3 linked regions of the Homo sapiens genome follow. The protein of the gene in region 3 interacts with the protein of the main gene of each other region in a biochemical or structural test. Each region holds a gene or a part of one and is shown on either strand. Other genes may lie near its edges.

What was found. Proteins that work in one complex are often made in the same cells at the same time.
Region 1: of the proteins of CEP250 (region 3) and NEK2, one has a biochemical effect on the other in vitro, tested with the Homo sapiens proteins (one study listed by BioGRID).
Region 2: of the proteins of CEP250 (region 3) and SIK2, one has a biochemical effect on the other in vitro, tested with the Homo sapiens proteins (one study listed by BioGRID and IntAct).

Annotation. Positions count from the first base shown.
Region 1 is NC_000001.11:211,665,620-211,673,307, forward strand, and holds part of NEK2 (serine/threonine-protein kinase Nek2), read right to left. Parts: intron 5,666-7,688; coding exon 5,583-5,665; intron 4,789-5,582; coding exon 4,662-4,788; intron 3,714-4,661; coding exon 3,494-3,713; intron 1,613-3,493; coding exon 1,487-1,612; coding exon of another isoform or gene 1,443-1,486; exon of another isoform or gene 798-1,442; intron 1-797. UniProt on the Homo sapiens protein: Protein kinase which is involved in the control of centrosome separation and bipolar spindle formation in mitotic cells and chromatin condensation in meiotic cells.
Region 2 is NC_000011.10:111,695,763-111,703,450, reverse strand, and holds part of SIK2 (serine/threonine-protein kinase SIK2), read right to left. Parts: intron 6,550-7,688; exon of another isoform or gene 6,496-6,549; coding exon of another isoform or gene 6,484-6,495; intron 4,707-6,483; exon of another isoform or gene 4,646-4,706; coding exon of another isoform or gene 4,571-4,645; intron 2,566-4,570; coding exon 2,441-2,565; intron 2,000-2,440; coding exon 1,876-1,999; intron 249-1,875; coding exon 28-248; intron 1-27. UniProt on the Homo sapiens protein: Serine/threonine-protein kinase that plays a role in many biological processes such as fatty acid oxidation, autophagy, immune response or glucose metabolism.
Region 3 is NC_000020.11:35,513,786-35,520,340, forward strand, and holds the end of CEP250 (centrosome-associated protein CEP250), read left to right. Parts: 3' UTR 1-241; coding exon of another isoform or gene 242-244; 3' UTR 245-3,196; coding exon of another isoform or gene 3,197-3,244; 3' UTR 3,245-5,495; downstream 5,496-6,555. UniProt on the Homo sapiens protein: Plays an important role in centrosome cohesion during interphase. Recruits CCDC102B to the proximal ends of centrioles. Maintains centrosome cohesion by forming intercentriolar linkages.

The sequences.
Region 1 (7,688 bases), on a different chromosome or scaffold from region 3:
ATGACAGTGTGGAATCTATGAAAAGCCAGAATAAATATTTTTATAATATTGAAATGGTAGACTGCAATATTGGGAAAAAAGAAGGTATTTTAACAGAGATGAAGCCAAAGTTTCATATAATCCTTGTTTCATTTACTTCTATCAGTAGTTTCATTTCTTTCCATCACTTATTCACTACAAAGTTATTGTGATCATCAATCTAACTTAAGTAGGGTTTTTTGTCTGTTCCATTTACAAAATGCTGCCAATGCTCACTAAATTGATCACACTACATCTCAATTTATTAAAGATGGGAATAATAGCTTTCATATATGCTGTCCTACATGGAATAAGGGAGTTATAAAAACTCTAAATTTTATTGAAAATTCAGATGCTCGATTTTTGAAACCAACAACTTTTAACAGTTAGTTTGTGTCATAAATCAAGCAAAAAGATGTTTCACAGTTTGCATTTTACATAATCTTAAAGAGTCGATTAAATTAGATTGAGGGTTTCTATAAAATGGAGAATGTTAGACAATGGTTCACTGGTATATACGATAACCACATCTCAGTGCGGCAGAGTGAAGGGACAATGCCACACAAAGGCAGGGCCCTGAGAAAGCTGAATATCTATATACCAGACTTTAAATAAAGAAGGAAATGCAGAGAACATATGTAGATATTAAACAATCAAATTTCAACAAATATGTCTTTCAACTTGAAAGGGTGTTAGCAAAGATCCAAACGTGACAGCCTATTCTGCAGGTGGCTTATCATGCCTTTTAAGCCATGCTTTCTATGAAAAATGAGGCATGGCAATATTAAAATGTTTATTTTTACTTGAAATGCAGTTTATCTCTCTGAAATCTGAAACATACAATAGTTTTGTAAATGCCCTAATTTTTAAAAATAAGTATCGGCTGGGCACGGTGTCTCATGCCTGTAATCCCAGCACATTGGGAGGCCGAGGCAGGCGGATCACGAGGTCAGGAAATCGAGACCATCCTGGCTAACACGGTGAAACCCCGTCTCTACTAAAAATACAAAAATTAGCCGGGCTTGGTGGCGGGTGTCTGTAGTCCCAGCTACTTGGGAGGCTGAGGCAGAAGAATGGCGTGAACCCGGGAGGCAGAGCTTGCAGTGAGCCGAGATTGTGCCACTGCACTCCAGCCTGGGCTACAGAGTGAGACTCCATCTCAAAAAAAATAAAAAAATAAATAATGATAATAAAAATAAGTATCAATTACTAAACATGTAGTTTGATAAGGTAAAGAAAATCAAACATGAAATTCTATGACTCATTGCCTCAGGTCTATGAACCCAGGAAATAAATCATTGCTATAACAGAATTTTGTTTCCATTGAAATGCATATATTCAATGAAATCCATCTTAAAATTTGAGATTTGTAAATGAAAAGGGCTACCTAAGCCACTTTGGGAGCAACACTGGTGCACATTTCTTCATTTGTAGCACCAGCTTCTGTTGACCAAGTTGATTCTCATACCTGGATTACTTGCCAGAGACAGGAACTTCCGTTCCTTTAGCAAGCTGTAGTTCTTCAACAGATTTTCTGCTCTAGCCAGTTTGTCCTCTGCTAGTCTCTCACGAACACAAAGCTCCTGTTCTTTCTCTTTAAAAAGAGAATGGACAAAGAAAAAAAAATTAACAACTGACCTTGACTAAAAAACAATTTACATTTGGCAATCTTATCACTACTAGCATGCCTGATACTGATAAGCAATGTTTGGGGAAAGGATTCTCACTATGCCTCAGTCAACCTGATTATGTTAGTTTTTAATTGAGTGTTTTAGTAGGCTGTATGTTATCTTAGATTTTCTTGAAAGGACTTGTTTAAACAAATACAAAGTTAGCTTCAACCTTTGGTCATCTTTTGTGGGAGTAACTCATTTGGGAAAACAAAAAACTAAAGCTATCTCTGCTCTTCACTGAAGATAAGCAACAGCTAATTTTCAGGGCATGATCTGGCCTCACAGTACAAAAATCTCCTTCTTCTGGTTGAATGACCACACCCAAACAAAAGAAAAAAAACACAATTCAGTTAGGTGGTAGTTCATAGGATTAGTATTAATAACAAATGTTACTATTTATTCATGGCCCCAAATTCAGAAAGTATTCAGATTTCAGTTGCTATATGAAATTATGGCTGGTCACAGTGGCTCACGCCTGTAATCCCAACACTTTGGGAGGCCGAGGCAGGTGGATCACCTGATGTCAGGAGTTCAAGACCAGCCAGGTCAACATGGCAAAACCCCATCTCTACTAAAAAATCAAAAATTAGCCAGGCATGGTGGCAGGCGCCTGTAATCCCAGCTACTCAGGAGGCTGAGGCAGGAGAATTGCTTGAACCCGGGAGGTAGAGGTTGCAATGAACCAAGATGGTGCCACTGCACTTCAGCCTGGGCAACAAGAGTGAAATTCCATCTCAAAAAAAAAAAAGAAAAGAAATTATGAAACACTGGGGAAAGTTATAAGAAAAAGCTTTCTTATTTTTTACAGAGGTTTCCAAGTAAGTATAGGTTGTACCTATACAGTAAGCATATCTCACAGGACTATACAATATTTCATTATTTAAAGCCTGGATTGGGCATAAAGCTGCAGAAGTAAAATCAGGTGAGTCATGAGGGTGACAGGTCACAAATACGACCCCATCTCTCGTCTCCTGATGTTAAAATGAAGAACCTCACTCTGTAGCTACCTTGCATAACCCTAAATGCTTGCGAGTAGCTCTCATCTTGGTGGAGTAGACACACTTTCAATATCAAAACTAAATTAGCATCTAATCAGTTAATACTCATAAGTCAATGTTAATACCCACCAGAGTATTATTTATAGACTTAAAATATCTTGTATCTAGATTCTCTATTGAACTGCCTGAACAGACCAGGTGTGGTAGGTCACACCTATAATCCCAGCACTTTGGGAGGTAAGATGGGAGGATCACTTGAGCTCAGGAGTTCAAGACCAGCCTGGGTAATATAGTGAGACCCCATCTCATTTTCAAAAATAAAAAGTTAAAAAAAAAGAAAAGAATTGCCTGAACATATCTCATCTACATACTGTAGGGTTTTAGACCTGGAATTCTGTTGGAGTGGCCATTTCAAAAGACAAAAGTCATGGTTTTTTATTATGGAAAGCAGCAATTTTAAGACCTTCCTTTACAGTGGGAAAACATTAGGGTATTCACAGTAGAGACGAAAAAGAAAAAAGTAACTCTAGAGTAAAATACAAGGCTATCGTATTAGGGCCATCACAGTTAAGGCCCAATAATATATAACTAGCAACTGATCTCAGAGAAAGATGTCCAACATGAAGGTGCCAGCAAGCCTGATTATTAAAAAGTCTAAAATACATATTTTGGTTTCTCAAGTATTTTTCAAAAGCTTCTAATAAGATCTGTATGTATAAAATATTCTGCTCAAAGAGATATTCAGACACATCAAAATAACCCACTTGGTAGTTCTCCTTTGCTTTGACCCCCATTCAGACTTACGCTCCAATCTTTCTTCTCTTGCTTTGAGAGCTCGCTCTCGCTCCTGTAACTGAATTTCCTTCAGTTTCAGCTCACTCAATACAGGGCTGGAATCCTGCGATTTTTCTGGCTCTCCTAATTGTCGCCCTCTTCTCTCAAGATTTCTTCTTTGCTCGTCTGCAACCAAATCTGCTATTAAAGGGTTCTCAAGAATTTCTTCAACAGAAGGTCGATGGTAATCCTGGGGAAAAAATACTCAGTATTATAGTCAGATTGCATAACAGAATAGTCCTCCTAAGACAGCAGTTAAAATAAAAGGACAAAAATGTGTTTCCAAGACAAAAGAAAGGACTCCTTTATGGCTAGGTCTTAAAAACTTGGAAAAATAAGTTCACTGGTGGTTTTAACTCATGAGGTTCTGGGTCCACAAGGTAATGCAGATGTTAACTTACCTTTTTTCCCTTTTCCCCTTTTCACCTTTCTAAGAAGGTTCAATCCCTGAAGATTGGCACATCTTGTGCTGGGGCTTGGTAGCATTGCTAGGGTCTGTTTTAGGGGAAGTACTGCCCTTGCATTTCTAAACTACATTTAGCAAGATACTCTCTCACTGACTCTCAATCCTGTCACTTCATCTGTATCCTTCTCTGTGATCCTACGGCATTTTCCTTCTTCTCTTATGTCAGCCTGGTCCCCAGAACATCTCCTTCCCCATTCTATAGCCAGAGTTTTTCCACATAATCTCTTTATTGATTTTCCCTCTGTTTTTAGCTGTCCTCCGTCCGCCCTCCATCACCCCTCCCCTTCTTCTGGTCTTTAATCTCTCAATTAGAGCTAGAGGCAGAGTAATAAACTCTTATTTCTGGCCCCTTCCCTCACTACCTGCCACTGTGAGGTAGGCAAGGACAAGGGGAACGAGAATTTGAATTCTTTTTGCAATCTTTCCTTGCTACCGACCATCTGTTAGCATGACAGAGTGGGAGGAGAAATAAAGAAAGCGCAGAAGGTGGGCCAGCAAGGATGTGCAATTTGCCAAATTTACATATGTTTTCACTTGTGTTAACACAGTAAATTTAGCTAAGAAAGTATATTTAACGTTTCTTCAGTCTCCATTGATCTACAAGAGAGAATGTATGCTCTGACACTTAACTGACAGCTAGAAACAGACAATATATCATCTTATCATCTTTACCTTTAAGTTTAACATCCTCGTAATAATTTCATTCAATTCATCAGAGTAACGGTATGGAATTCGCCTGAATTTGCCTTCTCTGATTTTCCCAGCGAGTTCTTTCTGGCTAAAAGCTGTAAATGGAGGCCTAGGGTTAAAAAAGAAGAAGAAGACGACGAAGACATTTTCAAATTGTAAAAATGAAAATATACAATAGGAACTAAATCAAAAGCACAGCTTAAGCTCCAGTTTGTATTTAAGTTTCTACTTCTGGGATTTTCTTCTTATAAGTAAGTTTCCCAACCTTGGCACTATTGACATTTGAGGTCATATAATTCTTTGTTGTGGGGGGCTGTCCTGTGCATTATAGGTATTTTGTAGCCTCCCTGCCCTCTACCCTCTAGATGCCAGAAGCACTCCCCAGCTGTGATAACTAAAAATTTATCCAAACATCATCAAATGCCCCATAAGAGGCAAATTTGCTTCCCTTATCCCTAGTTGAGAATCACTGCTCTACAGAATAGTTTCAAAGGGAAAGAAAATGAAAAGAAGAACAAAGGAAAAGAATTGGAGCTCTTCCCTGCTCTACAGATCCCCAGACCTCTACCCGAGTCTTGTTTCATTTCTTCCACATCCTTACAGTAGCTTTACCTTACCTGCCTGACCTATGTGCTCTCCCTTGAGCTAAGTGTCAATCTAATAAGAAAGCACCTAACCAGCCAAGACCCTTGAACAGTCAAGACCCAGCCTCATGGCTTATAGTTTTAATTTGTGAATAGTTTCTTTTAGCCTGTTCATCTATCTACCTTAATTTTACCCAGGGTACAATTCTTTCAGACTTGAATATACTTTCGTTAGCACAGAGGCTCAAAAAACTGAACCCAGTGAAATGTGACAAACAGTACAAACCTTAGACTAGGAATCTGTCTTCATCATACTTACATTAATGCACATAACTCATACAGCAAGCAGCCCAATGACCAGATATCTGATTTCTCATTGTAGGACATGCGATTCATTTGTTCCTATACAGGGAAAAAGGGTAAGAAAGTGGAAGGTGTTAAGAGTTTATTTTGTTTTGAAACTTAAAAAACACATTAAATTACTCCTGAGATAAAAACAGAACCTCAAAGTTTTTAGCTTATACTTTATCTTGAAATTTATAATGGAAAAAAGGCAATGATCTTGTTCCAATACACTCCATCATACATAATTCATTCACTCATTTTCCATTCACAAATGAAAGTGCTTAGTATAGACTAGGCACTGACAATACAGAGGTGAATATGAGAGACTTCTACTCTCAAGGCAAATTAAGAAACACCATTTTAAAAGAACTAGAGGAAATTTAAGAATAGTCAAAATATGTATCTAGTCCACATTTAAATGGATATAGACATAAATAGCTAATTGAATTATCCATTTATATTTTGTCTTAGTCCACTCCATAAATCACAGTAGTAACTAATATTATCCTTACCTATTTTATTGTTTGCCTTTCTTCCACATCTACAGTAACAACAGCCTACCAGAGCTCCTATTCTCAACAGAGGGAATAGAAGCAATCTCTAGTGGCTGGTTAGTGTTTTAAAGTCCAACTGGTGAGTCTGATGCCACTTTTTGACAATCAGTGCCTTAGGAAAGCTGAACCACTCTAATTACAAGGGCAGGAGGGAAAAGGAACAAAAGAATAGGTTTCAAATTTCCCAAGAACCACTTCTGGATAATTGTCCTTTATGTTAAAAACATTCTATTTGGAATTTGATACAGTGAGAAAATGGTACTGTTCTGGCTATTTTTAGTCAAAACCAAAATCATTAATTTACAAAGTTTTATACTATAGTAAGATCTGTTAACATAATTTATAAATATTTGGAAAATCCTAGAAAGGTGAACTACTAAAATACTAACAAATATTTCTTCATCTTTATCTGTTCAGATGTTATATACTAACACATTAGTGCTATCACAATTGACTTAAACTTTTTAAAAGCCATCAGACAATATCTAATAACAGCCATAAACATTTACCCCAGCAATTTCATTTTATGAGCTACACTCCAAGGAAATAACCAAAAAGGAAGAAAGAATAATTCATACAAAGATATGCAGAGCAGTACTTCTAAGAATGGTGAAACATGTTGGAAACAAAATATCCAGCAATAGAGGTAATTGGTGAGTGGACTCAGCAAGATATTTCAGGGATAGGCAACAAAAAAATAAAATGTACAAAAAGTTAACATTGTAAAAACATGCTATCTGAAGTGAGCAAACTTCCTGAGCTCTGATTCTGCATACACAAGAATCATTTACAGAGCCTCTTAAATGCAAAGTCTAAAATAAAAAGTAAAATATTAAAAAAAAAAAAAAACAGAGTTCAAGAACCCACCCAGAGATCGAAATTCACTCGATGGATTTGGGTTTGGGTTTGGGACCCAGAACTCTGCATTTTAAACAAACACTCCAAGTGAGTCTGATGCAGATAACTAGGACCTACACATTGGGAAACAACTCTTGAGGGCAAGGACAAAATCCATTTCATTTTTGTAATCCTTGAGTTTAATGCATCATAGTCATTCCATAAAAGCTTGAACTGAATATGCTTTAATTTGCATGAATGCTCAAAAAATTGAACCCAGTGAGAGATGACAAACGGCGCAAACCTTAGACTAGGAATCTGTCTTCATCATACTTACATTAATGCACATAACTCATGCAGCAAACAAAAACTGATATAGACTTTATTGGTCTGGTGGTCCATGTGGAAAAATATAACAGTATTTTCAATTCTTGGCTACTAGATATTACTAAACAAACAGAAAACTCAATTTCCCTGCTTCAGAATGCTTAACATTAAAAGATGTTTTGGCTGGGCATGGTGGCTCACGCCTGTAATCCCAACACTTTGGGAGACTGAGGTGAGCAGATCGCTTGAGGTCAGGAGTTCGAGACCAGCCTGGTCAACATGATGAAACCCTGTCTCTACTAAACATACAAAAATTAGCCAGGCATAGTGACATGCACCTGTAGTCCCAGCTACTCTACTTA
Region 2 (7,688 bases), on a different chromosome or scaffold from region 3:
GAACCCCGAAATCTCTGATCACTTTACCTCAATGGTTTTCTGCTGATCTATTCCAAGGCTGTGCATCAGTCGCAGAACCTGCTCATTAAACTCCCCGATGGATGGCTCATTTTCTTGCTCTTGTGGATAGAGAACAGGTCTCTGGACAGGAACTTCTATGAGCATCCATTTATGCTCCTTGATTTGGGCTATGGTTAGCCGTTTGGATGGGTCTAGGACCAACATCCTTCGGATAAGGTGCTCGCAATCTATAGAAAACACAATGTTACAAAAGTCACAAGAATCACCTTGCACTTCAGGGTTATTTGCTTGACTCATGTGACTTTGTACAAGGGTGTTAATCTTTGTATCCTCTACTGGAAAGCAGAAGGTCAAATGAATAAATGAACACATGCAGGCTACTTATATTTCTCAAGTTCACATGGTGAACAAATACCTAAGAAAAACAGGAGGGTGTAGGTCTATCAGATTCTGGGCTAAAGGAAACTTTCTACTGAATTTCACAACTGAAAATATCTAGAAACAGACTTTGGTTTCCACTAAAGGAAAGAAATAAGCCTCATTCCTAGAACAAGCAAATAATAAATCGATCCTCAGTCATATCTAATGCTGATATACTAAGGCTACGTAAGCGAGGCAAAGAGCTCTCCAACGGGCTGCTGCTCTCCTCCACATCACTGTAGCTGAGAAAAGTGTACATAAAATATTACTTACTTCTGACTACACCAAGAAAACCGCACTGCTGCAACTTTGAGCACTAGCATATTCTCTGAGCTGACATGATGCTCTTCACTCACACATAAGGTAACCTCCTGTCACTATATGGCAGGCGCTGTGCTAAGTGCTTTACACAGATTATGCCTATTTATTATATTATTATTGGAGACAGGGTCTCAGTCTCTTGCCCAGGATGGAGTGCAGTAATGCAATCACAGCTCACTGTAAGCAATCCTTCTGCCTCAGCTTCCTGAGTAGCTAGGACTACAGGTGCATGCCACCACACCCGGCTAATTGAAAAAAAACTTTTTTGTAGAGACAGGGTCTTGCAATATTGTGCAGGCTGGTCTCCAACTCCTGGCCTTAAGAGATCCTCCCGCCTCAGCCTCCCAGACCACTGGACTTACAGGTATAAACCACTGCACCTGACTGACAGATTAATTTAATTAAACCTTACAACACCCGTGCGGTAGGTGCTATTGTTATTTCCATTTTATAGATGGGGAAATTGAAGCAGATAGAGAGGAGACAAAACTTGTGAAAGTCATATGGCCAGTAACCAGTGGACTCAGGATTAAAACCAGGCAGTCTGGTAGTCTGCCTTCACAGTCCATGCTCTTAACTATGAAGAGTTATTATTTCTACTCTTAGTAGAAAGAACAGAGTTAAGAATGATAACCAAAATGAAACTAAGGGGTAAACTTAACTGCTATCTAGGTAACAGCTCAATACACGACAGGCAGGGATTATGGCATATCATCTGAATTTAGCAGAGTTTTGCCAGTTTGGCTTTTTATTTAATTAAAAAAATTTTAATTTTATAAAGTTCATTTCATATTGGAGTAAAATGGTTGTGAATCTGTATCTACAAAGGGCTTCGTTAAATCTAAAATAAACCTGGGACATTTATAGACCCAGAATGAATGAGAAGACATGCTGCTCTTAATCTGGGAAATGCTGTGTGTTTAGTTACAAGTAGAAGGCTGGAACCTGTCTCGCCTACATAAAGGAGGTTGCTTCTTTCTATAGCTTTTAACCTACAGCTCAGTCACTTTATTTGGCACCCAAACTCTTAGAAAAAAAGAAGCTTTTACCTAGGCATTTCACTTGGAGCACTAACACTGTAAAACACCATTAATAAGATGAAAAGTTGATTACCTTCTGACATGAAATACGGAATCCGGAATCTTCCTTCCAGAACCCTCTGCCTCAAAATTGGAAGAGTCGGTCCATCAAAGGGCAGAGCTCCACAGACAAGGACATAAAGAACAACTCCCATACTCTAGGGAAGAAAACAATGCAGAGACTTTTCTACCAAGAACGTCAAACACTCTTTGTTTTCCTGAACATCCCCAGGGCTCTTGAAATCATATGGACTGAAAAATTCCTGTCTGGATTTATTATTTTCTCAGAATTTGAAAAAAATCCAAAACCCTGACTACTACAATAAGTATCTTATAATAAATACCAAAGAATTTGAATCTGATAATTTTGATTACTACTTAACTTTAAATTACTGCTGATATTAGGATGACAACACCTATCCTTAGAAATTCTTTCCTAGGGATCCATTTCAAGATGCTCTGAGTAATTATAGTCCAGTGGATGGGGAAAATATGAAATACTGCTTATGTGTTAAGTACCAGGAGCTTCTAAGATGGGCCAGAACACCAAGTATTATCAGTATAGATGCATTTAACAACACAGCAAAGCAAAGCAGTACCCAGATGTCCAGCTGTGGTCCTTCATACTGCTGCCCTTCAAAGACTTCTGGGGCTGCATAAGGGGGGCTGCCACACCATGTTGCCAGCAGTTCACCACTTTTAAAGAAATTTCCAAAACCGAAATCTATTAGGATGGAAATAAATGTTATTTTCATCTATGCTCTCAAACTATACTGCATTTCTCTGTAATAAATTTTCTAATATGCTATATTAACAATATCACTACTATTTACTGTGAGGACTGGGATGGCATCTTATCTTGTGATGTTTCCCTGGCATTAGCACAATGACTAGCAAATAGTACTCAAGGAATGTTGCTGAATGAATGTGTAAATGAATCAAGTTTTCTTCCCAAAGCGAGTAAGTGAGAGACTGGAAAAATACTTTATATCATGTGAAAGAAAATCAGCCTTAAAGTGGACAACCCAACTAGTATTTGATAATCTTAGAATTTCAATTACCTGATGACTGCTAAAGAGCTCTTTATCTTAAATGGTCTATAAGGAAAGAAACAAATGAGTAAAGCTCTAAGACATTCACCTAAACACAACTGAGTGACTGGCTGCCATTACCCCAGATATATAACCCTTGAAGGCAACTGAGTGCAGTGTTTCCTAAGTAACAACCCTCTAAGTGTTGGTCCACATATCCTGTTTTAGGCAGATAACCATCTGAATAGCTCATTAACATATGATGGCCACATAGCCCAGCCACAAGCCACCTATCACCATCACTTATTTACTAATTTATGGATCGCAGTGGCATTATAGTTCAAAACAGTTAATGGCCTTCTCCTTATGATCTTAGCCATACTGACTCTACAGTTTTGATACAGAGAATGCACTCTGGAAACACTACTTAGATGCCTTCAACATGCATTAAAAAATTTAGTAAGTATTGTTACAAATGCAAGTTCATACCCTTTTGCTAAGCCTTTATAGTCTCATATTCTTACCGAAGAAACAAATACCTATTATCTTGTTAAGTTATACTCATGCTGTCTTATGTTGCTACATACTCCTGACTGAAGAGCCTGTCTCAGTGACAGGAACTGGCTCTCCACCCAGCTGGAGCACAGCATTGCATGCACAGTGAGCTTTAAGAGATGGCTCAAGAAAGACTGGATCAAGTCTCTACTGCCAGACAGATTGACTGGATTTGTGACTTTGGATCAGTCTTTGTGAGCCTTAGTTTCCCCATCTGTAAAGTGAAAATGATAAATACACTTAGTCAGCAGGTTGCTGTAAAGGCCCAATGTGTTAAAATAAGCTCACTCCATTCATACCTTGAGACCATACATACATGTGCACCTTAGGCAAAGCATTCTCTTAGCTTGCTAACATAAAAACTAGAGGCAAGCAGTAGTAACAGTAATAACAGTAACAATCCCCATTATTACAGCTTCATGGAAGAGTACAACCTATGAAGTTATGAGAACTACAGCTAATTACCAGTTTTATCACTTTCAAGCTTCAAGTCCTCTAGGAAAGTTATTTTTTCCATATCTATAAATGTAGTGATAATCCACCTACCCAGATAGGATGCTGTGAGGATTAAATGAGAATAAGAATGTAAAATGCCAGAGCATACTAGACGTGAAAGGTCAGCTCTCCTCCTCCTGTGAAACCATTACCACCAACTGTTGCCTTTCAGAGAAAAAGGTCCCAAAAAAGTAGATAGGAGGGGTAGAAAAAGTTTAGAGGGAGCTTCAAGGTTTAGGAGAGAAAAGAGGGTACATCTGGGGAAAGAGCTTCAGATACAGTCTAAACCTGGTGAACAACACTGTGGTCTGCCTTTGGTATCCAGGAGTGTGAGGCAAAGGTGGTGCCAGGGAGAAGTTCTCTCTTTACAATGTAACCTCAGCTCAGCTCCACAGTCCACTTTCCAAAATGACTGTCAGAAAGGCCTTATCTTCACAGTACCACCTCTATGACTAACCACTCCTAGAACATCATATCTCATATGGACACATACAGATATATATATTTCTAATTTTCTAGAAAAACTATACTCTCAAATGAGTCAAGGACTAGATGTTCCCATGAGTCGAAAACTAGATGTTCTCATGAGTCAAGGACTAGATGTTAAATGAGTCAAGGACTATGTTCAAATGTTAATTTCACTCACAGGATAAAGCAGCACAAGAAGCTCTCGGATGTGTGTTCAGAGATCCTGAAATACATACAATAATTGCTGCACTTTAAACCATAATCACAGGATGAGTTTTAGTGCCTGTAAATTGAGGATACTCTCCAAATAGCACTGGTAAGGTTGTTTTTCTTTCTTTCTTTTCTTTTTTGAGATAGGGTCTTGCTCTGTTGCCCAGGCTAGAGTGCAATGGCACGATCTCAGCTCACTGCAGTCCTCGCACCTCAACCTCCTGAGTAGCACAGGTGTGCTCCACCACACCAGGCTAATTTTTGTATTTTTAGTAGAGACAGGGATTTGCCATGTTTCCCAGGCTGGTCTCCAACTCCTGGGCTGACGCAATCCACCCGCTGTGGCCTCCCAAAGTGCTGGGATTACAGGTGTGAGCCACCACCTGGCCCATTGGTAAGTTTTAATGTCTCCAGGAGCCCTTATAGAGCCACTTCATTCTGAACTTCCCCACAGCTGGTGAAATAAACTCAAAGGAGTGAATGGGACAGAGGCCTGTCAAGAAGGTGGCCTGGCCTCTTTATTGCCTTAGGCTCTCATAGTACACTTCACAGGCAAGAGAACAAGAGCTGGGAACACTTCTCTGGACCCGTGGTAGCCCAGTTTCAACCTCTGCTTTACAAATCTAGCACAAAGAAAGCTTCCTGTTTGCTTACAGGAGGAGTGGTACTAAGCAGTTATTTCTATTTTCTGTAGGTAATATGAATATAGAAACTTGGGTCTATAGGGATATTAAAAGAAACACTGAAAGACAGGCTCACTAAGCTGTTACAATATTACATGTGCTGAGGTCTTCTATAACCTTGTCAAAGCACTTCAAATGTTATATTTATATATTCTTTTGAGACTGGTCTTGCTCTGTTGCCCAGGCTGGAGGGCAGTGGTGTGAATCACAGCTCATTGTAGCCTTCATCTCCCAGGCTCAAGTGATCTTTTTGCCTCAGCCTTCCAAGCAGCTGGGACCATAGACTCACGCCACCATGCCTGGCTAATTTTTTTTTCCTTTTTTCTTTTCCTTTTTTTGGGTAGAGACAAGGTCTCACTATGTTGTGTAGGCTGGTCTTAAACTCCTCGGCTCAAGTGACCCTCCTGCCTCAGCACCCAAAGTGCTGGGATTACAGGTGTGAGCCACTGCCCTCTGCCAAACACTGTATTTGTAATCATCTGAAGAATGGGTTAAGGAAGACTTTGGTGTTAGGCAGATTGGGGATCAAATCCTGGGTTTTCTATTAGCTATGCAATCTTGGACAAATTACTTAACTTCTTAGAGCCTTGGTTTCCTCATTTGAAAAATAGGGACAACACTTACATTTCATGAAGTAGTTGAATTAATAGAAATAGATATTATATTGCGATTGAAACATAGTAGGTAGTCAATAAACAGAAGCTATCATTGCTATTATTATTTATTATTTTACTTATCTGTCTATCCCATCAGACTAAGTTCCTCGGGAGCAGGGAATGGGGGACAACATTCTGTACTCCCAGCTCTCAGCATATCATCTGCAGACAACAGCTGCTCGATAAAGATCTGCTAGATGAATATGTTGTTCCCACCTCTTAAAAGTGCTTTACTATGTGACAGGAGCTGATTTAAACTCTCTGAAGATAATTTCTTCTTAGTTCTATGAAGTATCCTTATTTTAGGAGAAAGTGAGGGTATAAAGTTAAGTATTTTGCCAGAGGTTATACAGCTAGCTACTAAGTTGCAGCAGTGGAATAGAAACCAAGTTTAACTACTTCGAGCCTTCATTGTTAACCACCACCTTTATGTCTCTCACTGGCATGTCAAAAATAGTTATTTTTGAAGAAGTTAATAATTGTCAGGGTTAAAAAGTGGCAGCAAAAGACACTTAAAAATAAGAGCCTTTTAATTTCTTCACAGGAATCTGGATAACTTGCTTCACCCAGTCTGCAGCTTTCTGCCTAAATGCATATAGTGAAGTGGGAGGTGAGTAGGGGGGGAATGAAATGTGAAAATGCAGGATTTATTTCTTACTGCCATTTATTCAAATGAAATGGACTATACTCATGCTTCATCATACTAACCACATTCATTCATTCCTTCATTAAACATCAGCATTCCATACACATGTCAACCACTGTACAAACACAGAAGTCTTGCAACAACACAAAATAATAAGACTCCACATCATCATCTGACTTTTGGAAAACATTATGAAAACAATCACTTGGGCATTCGTCTCTCTCTCTACCAGACTCAGATCCAGCCTAGCCCTGCTAGAAAGCAAACATCTTTCTAGTTTAATGTCTTCTCTAATTGTGATATGCAGGTTAATACCTAAAACTATGGCTATGTTCCTCAGACATTCTGCTTGCTATTATAAACAAAACATTTATGCCATGCCACGTGGCTTCATTTTGACTTTTTTAAACTTTTAATTTTGAAATACTTTTAGATTTATAGAAGAGTTGCAACAGTAAATTCAGAATTCCCCATACCCTTCACCCAGCTTCCTCTAATGTTAACATTTTACATACCTACAGTATAATTATCAAAACTAAGCTTCAATTATCAAAACACTGATTCACTACTATTAATTAAACTACAGACTTAACATTTCATGAGTTTTGTCACATGTTCCTTTTCAGTTCAGGGATTCCACATTGCATTTAGCCTCATGATTCCTTAGTCTTCTCCAATTTGTATTCATATTCTCTCACCTGGGTTCTATATGGCCTGAAATATTTATAGAAGAGGATTAGGGGTAGAGTCTTTAATTACAGATCAGTTATCGACTCTCATGAAAATCAACTAGGCCTCAAAAGCTGAGTCCTCTGTCTCTTACTTAATTAACCAGCCGCAGCAGACCAAGGATATATCTGAACACAGCCCTAGAGCTGCTATTGTTTTCTGCTCTGTATTTTGAAAGTTGACTGACTGACCTATATGGTCCTAACAAAAACCATTATCACTGTCATCACTAAATTATATAAATTATCAGTGCCCAAACATCATTAGCAAAGGCACAATGTTTTAGGAATAAGAGGGTCTTGCATAGAGTAAATAAGCTAACTCTGATGATTGTTGTCTAATGGGAACCAAATACAAAATGGAGAATTCTGTTT
Region 3 (6,555 bases):
GGCTGCCAAGCAGGGTCTTTATTCAGGACTAGACTAATCTGTATTTGCTCTTCTCTTTCCATCCAACCCTCAAGAGCCCCCCAGCTCCATTATAGACCTCGGCCTAGGGTCTCCCCTCCCCACCAGATATTCAGAGCAGGGCTGGCCTTCAGTTCAAGTGTAGACTGTGCTCTTGCCCTCACACTCGAGCTTGTGGATGATCTTCCACTCCGGCTTTCTAAAGTACACTTTCCTTGCCCAGTAGCAGGATTGCCTCTGTGGAGTGTCCCACCAATAATGGTGACAACTGCTGTTTTCATCAGCTCCAGACCCAAAGAGACCTGAAGTGGGGAAGTGTGAAGGAAGGAATATGTGTCATCCAGGGGGGACCCAACTTTGCCTAAGGGCATGAGGCCGGAGCCTCCTTTCCTGACCTTGTCACATGTGGCAGGGTATAACCAGAATGGTGAATCCAGCAGACGGGAGGAGTCCCTGGCAGTCCAGCCAGTTCTCGTGGATGTACTTGAGGAAGGTGCAATTGGCCACCAGAACATGCAGGAGTAGAGGTTAGAGCTCAGCCACAGAGATTATCTTCTTGCAGAAAACTTTTTTCCCCCTTCCTAATCTTGTCTGCTTTGATAGAAGCTGGTACTGGCTGGAAAGGCCTGAAAGCAGGAGGGGACAAGAGTCGTCAGAGGCTGGGCAATGTTCTTGTTTCCGGGGAGTGCTGAGGTCCGGCGGGTGCTGCCCCTGTTCTCTCAAGGATCCCACGTGCTTTGTGTGTTAGAGCAGTGACCATCACCTCCCAACCCAAGGACCTTTGCTGCTCTGCTTCCCACATGGGACTGCCAGCACCCTGAAGGCAGAAAAACTGAATGTACCCGTTAAAGGAGGAGAAGCTGGTGGTGTATGTTGAGATAAGGAGGGTGGGGAGTGTACAGTTACAGGCTGCACAGGGAGGGCAAGATCAATGTTGACACCAAAGTGCCAAAGGCTGTCTGCGCCAGGTCTGGGGCCCCCACTGGTCATACCGCCTGATAAAACCATTGCAGTCCACACTAGGTCTGGAGGCTTCGACACCCACAGCATGTGGGTGTTCTCATGCAGGCCATGAGTATTCGGGGTGCTTTAAGTGCAGGGGAGTTCTGTTGTCCACGTTATTCTTAAAGCCCAGAATAGGCCCTGTTTTATTCTACAGAGATAGGAAGGCACTGGGGCTCACAGAGTGGTGCTGCTTCCCACCCTCACCCTTCTGCCCCCACCTGAGCACAGTGTGGTGCTCAGTGATGGTTATCCTATATTCCAAATACGCATGGCCCAGGACTGGCAGAGTCGGAGCTCGGGGTCTAGCTGTGACCTGGGGATCGGTTGGAGTAGCTTCTTGACCAGCCGGAATTGGGTTAGGTGTCCTAGCATTGGTGCCTATGGAGAAGAACACAGACTGTTTATCACTCACCCCTGGTTCCAGTACCAAGGAAAGGCTGGAGCCATTGCAACTGGAGGCCCAGCGGAGGAAGGGATCAAGAAGAGGATGCAGCCCAGAGCCCAGGACCGAGCATCCACCGGCCTCTGGAGATGGCGTGGTCTCCAGTTGCATCGGGGCTTCAGGGCCCATCTGAAGTGCTGATCAAACCAGGCAGACACACCATGCTGGTGAAGGCAGGCTTTGTAGATGCGGGGCTGAATTGAGCAGCCACAGAACCTCTGCAGCTCTGGGGCCAGTGGCAGAACTTCTAGAAGTACCTGTGGGGTGGGAAACCCCAGCCACAAAAGCAGTGAGCTGACTTCCAGGCCTGAGGCTTTGCCTGCAGGCCTCATCTCAGCCCATGGGACAGATTCCTGGTTTTTTTAGTTTGGCCTTGGGGTAGATGATACCTTCAGCTGTCCACCCTGCAATACCTCACCTCCTGCCTTCTGACCCAGTACTCTGCAGAGCGGGGGAATGGGGCCAGGGGACAGGGGCAGGGAAGAGGAAGAAGCAAGAGCTGCCAGTGTGCTCCAAACCAAGAGAGCCCTCCACATGATTCTGGGCACAGCTGAGGAGGAGTGCAAGCTCAACTCTGCTCACCACACTTAAGAAGCAGGCAAGGGAGGATGAAGGGCAAAAACATGGGGTCCTGAGGCCCTTTTACTCCCTCTACCCTGCTGGAGGTGAGGATGAGAGGTGAGACTTCGTTGGACTGTGCTCCTGGCCAGTTGATCTCACCCAACTCATTACATCAGTAGCCTGGTCACAGGGTGGACACTCTGACCTCTTCTTAGCCTTTCATTGGCAATACTACCAGCTCTATATATGCCCTTATAGGGCCTGAACCTTGGCTCAGGTGGATGGGCTTGGAGGTAAAATAATTGAATGGGTCAGGGGTAGGAGGAGAGATGAGTCTCTGCCAAGGCTGTGTGATGTGTCATCTGAGAGAGTGGGTAACCCCTATTCCCAGCACATGGCCATTTATTTAGAGCCAGGGAGGGGGACGAGAATTCATATTCAAATGTGATTCTTTCTTAATTACTACCAGTTGTTCAGGTGAGGGAATCAGGGAAGGCCAGATTAATAATCCACACATTGCCCTTGCACCTCCTGTCTTGGTTTCCTATCAAAACCTCTCCCGTATCTATGAACATTCCAGCCCTGCAGGTCAGATTGCTGGCCAGGAGTAGTCTCACATTCTAGCTGACTGATGGCCTCGGCTTCTGCTGTTGTATGTGGTTTGATGATTCATGCTGGAGCCTTTGGCTATAACTCTCTTCCCTGTATAAGGGCCATCTGAAGTTTGTCTGCCTGACTCCATTACCTGGTGAATGAGATTGGCTAGCTGCTGCTCCTGCCCCAGCTATTCAGTCATTTGGCAAATACTCATTTAAACAAAGCTCCACAGGGATCTCTGAGAAGGAGCTCACCTCTAGGCACACAGAACCTGGACACAGATGAAAGTTTGCAGAATGACCCAGTTGTGCAGAAGAGACCCACTGGCTGCTCTCAGTGAGGCCAGGGAGAGTCAAACAGAGCATCTTGGACAAAGAGAGGGCTTGAAGGCCCTTTCAAAGTGTCAAGCCAGTTGGATGCACGGGTTGTGTGGAGTCCAGGGGTACATCCAGAAGCAATGGCAGGTGTTATCCATTCATTCAGGTTAGACCTCTGAGCAGACGGCAGAAACGTCAGCCACAGGTGAGCATAAGCTCAAACCCCCCCATTGAAGGCTACATTCTTGTCCCACAGGGCAGAGCACATGGCAAGTGGCATGCTGACTCAGACACCGGGCACTGAGAAAAGTGGGAAGCCATGGTCACAGACTCTACATTCCCCTCTCCTGTTGGCCTCCATCCCTTCCTCAACCGTCCGCAGAACACCTCCTTCCAGCACCTTAGCTCCTGCCTCCCTCTGGACCTATTCAGTCCTCAAGGGTGCCCTGCTAAAGGCTGGGCTGAAAGCTAAGAGGAGAGGTGGCATTCAATGTGTCCTGTGTCCTCCCTGGGGTTGATTAAGGGGTCGATGCCCAATAGAGTCCTTCATCTTGGTGTTCAGCCCAGGGTCCAGCTGCCAAGGGAAGGCTTGGCAATCAAGGGTGATGGAGATAAGAATGAAAAGGGGCACCACCCTGTGCCAAAGCTGGCATGTTGTATATCTGAGAGAGGAGCTGCCTATTCACAGTGTAGGGTTGTCAAGCTGGAGGCAGGGAGAGAAAAGCAAGAGCTTTTTGGTTCCTCTTGAGGATAGAATCTATAGGAAAATGTAAGAGGGTTAAAAATAAATTTCCCATGCATCCAAACTTTTTTCTTTGGTAGACTTTCTTGTCATCTATTTAAAATGAAACAAGTGCATGTACGTGGTTAAGACATTTTAGCTAGGAATGATGGTGCGTGCCTGTAGTCCCAGCTACTTGGGAGGCTGAGGCAGGAGGATCGCTTGAACCTGGAAGGTCAAGGCTGCAGTGAGCCGAGATCATACCACTGCACTCCAGCCTGAGTGATAAAAGTGAGACCCTGTCTCAAAAAAAAAAAAAAAATTAAAGAAGTTAAACAGTGCCGGGCTTGGGGGCTCACGCCTGTAATCCCAGCACTTTGGGAGGCCCAGGCAGGCAGATTGCTTGGGCTCAGGAATTCAAGACCATCCTAAGCGAAAAAATATAAAAATTAGCTCAGTGTGATGATGTGCCTGTAGTCCCAGCTACTCGGGAGGCTGAGGTGGGAGGATCACCTGAGCCCAGGGAGGTCAAGGTTGCAGTGAACCATGATCATGTCACTGCACTCACTCCAGCCTGGGCAACAGAGCAAGACTGTCTCAAAAAAAAAAAAAAAGGAAATTAAATAAAAAGAAGATAGCAGTTTCCCACCTCATTCTTCTCAAACTCCTCTTCAGAGGCAGCGGGTTTTGTTTTTTTTTTAACTATGTTTTTCTACTGGCTCACTTTATTCCTCTAAAATAGTAACTTGTCTATGTGGTGCCATAACGGGTCCAGTATCTGGACACGAGGCCGCACTACCTACACCTTTGGGGATTCTCGGATCCTGACTCTGAGCTACCTCATTCCTAGACACCTGGTGCACCACAATGTGTCAGGGATGTCGGTTTATGTGGGATATTTGCATTTTGTTAGGTTGTGTGTGGTAGTTGAGCAGCCAAGGGGGTAGCATGCGGTGGATATTTGTTTTAGATACACAGTAACTGGAAACTCATTTACTGAGGCTATTTGGTTACCCTGAACTACTGTTTCTACCAAAAAGGCAGGATAAATGCTCCCTCAACACACACCTTTAATTACCAATTTTCAGAGTAAGGGGTTGAGGTAATAGCCACCGCCAGTTTTCCCTTTCTCTTTGAGTATCATTATGAGCTCAAAGTTTTTTATATATTCACTATGATTCAATCATGACAGTTGCTATTTTTGATGCTCAAATTGCCGCAAATCTAATGTCCAAGTGTTCTTGTACTTGTCTAGGCCTAGAATCTTTTAGTGAAGAAAAAGTATTTAGAAGACAAAAATCAGGCTGAGTGCAGTGGCTCACGCCTGTAATCCTAGCACTTGTGGGAGGCTGAGGCAGGCGGATTGCCTGAGCTCAGGAGTTGGAGACCAGCCTGGGCAACATGGTGAAACCCCGTCTCTACTAAAATACAAAAAATTAGCCGGGGGTGGCGGTGTGCACCTTGTAGTCCCAGCTACTCAGGAGGCTGAGGCAGGAGAATTGCTTGAACCCAGGAGGCAGAGGTTGCAGTGAGCTGAGATCGCGTCACTGCACTCCAGCCTGGGTGGCAGAGCAAGACTCCGTCTCAAAAAAAAAAAAAATACGAAAAACAAAAAACATAATCTGGATTGCAGGGCTGATCGTTGCTAATGGAGTGTTATGGCTGTTCAGATGACAGAGGGAGAAAATGTACTTTGTAAACTGTTAGTTCAATGAGGTTATGATTGCACAACAATGTGAACATACTTAATGCCACTGAACTTTATTGCCATTGATAACTTTTAAATGGTAAATTTTGTGTATTATTTTGTCACAATAAAAAGTTTGAAAATCGAGTTCATAATATTTCCAGTTTGGGCCGACCACGGTGGCTCATGCCTGTAATCGCAGCACTTTGGGAGGCTGAGGTGGGTGGATCACAAGGTCAGGAGTTCGAGACCAGCCTGACCAACATGGTGAATCCCTGTCTGTACTAAAAATACAAAAATTAGCCGGGCGTGGTGGTGCGCGCCTGTAATCTCAGCTACTCAGGAGGTTGAAACAGGAGAATCACTTGAACTCGGGAGGCGGAGGTTGCAGTGAGCCGAGATCGCGCCACTGCACTCCAGCCTGGGCGACAGAGTGACACTGTCTCAAAAAAAAAAAAAAAAAAAAAAAAAATTCCAGATTGAATTTAATGTCACAGAGTTTTTAGCCTGTCCACCTGCCCAATTTTGTATTGTTTCTTTTTTTTTTTTTTTTTTTTGAGATGAAGTCTCACTTTGTCACCTAGGCTGGAGTACAATAGTGCGATCTTAGCTCACTGCAACCTCTGCCTCCCAGACTCAAGTGATTCTCCTACTTCAGCCTCCCAAGTAGCTGTGATTACAGGCAGCCTCCACCACACCTGGCAAATTTTTGTATTTTTAGTAGAGATGGAGTTTCACTATGTTGGCCAGGCTGGTCTTGAACTCCTGACCTCAAGTGATCCACCTCCCTTGGCCTCCCAAAGTGCTGGCATTACAGGCGTGAGCCACCACACCTGGCCTGTGTCTAGTTTCTAATGTTGTTAATATAAGTAGTTATTTACTTATTCAAGACCAGCCTGGGCAATATAGTGAGACCTCAACTCTACAAGAAAATTTAAAAATTAGCTGAGGGTGGTGGCACGCACCAATAGTGCCAACCATTCAGAAGGCTGATGTGGAAGGATCACCTGAGCCTAGGAGGCAGAGGTTGCAGTGAGCCGTGATCATGCCAGTGCACTCTATCCTGGGTGACAGAGTGAGACTCTGTCTCTAAATAATAATAATAATACCAGCACTATAATGAAAATACTGAGTCAAGTTTAAAAAAAAATTTTTTTTTTTGAGACAGAGTGTCACTCTGTCGCCGAGGCTGGAGTGCAGTGGTGCG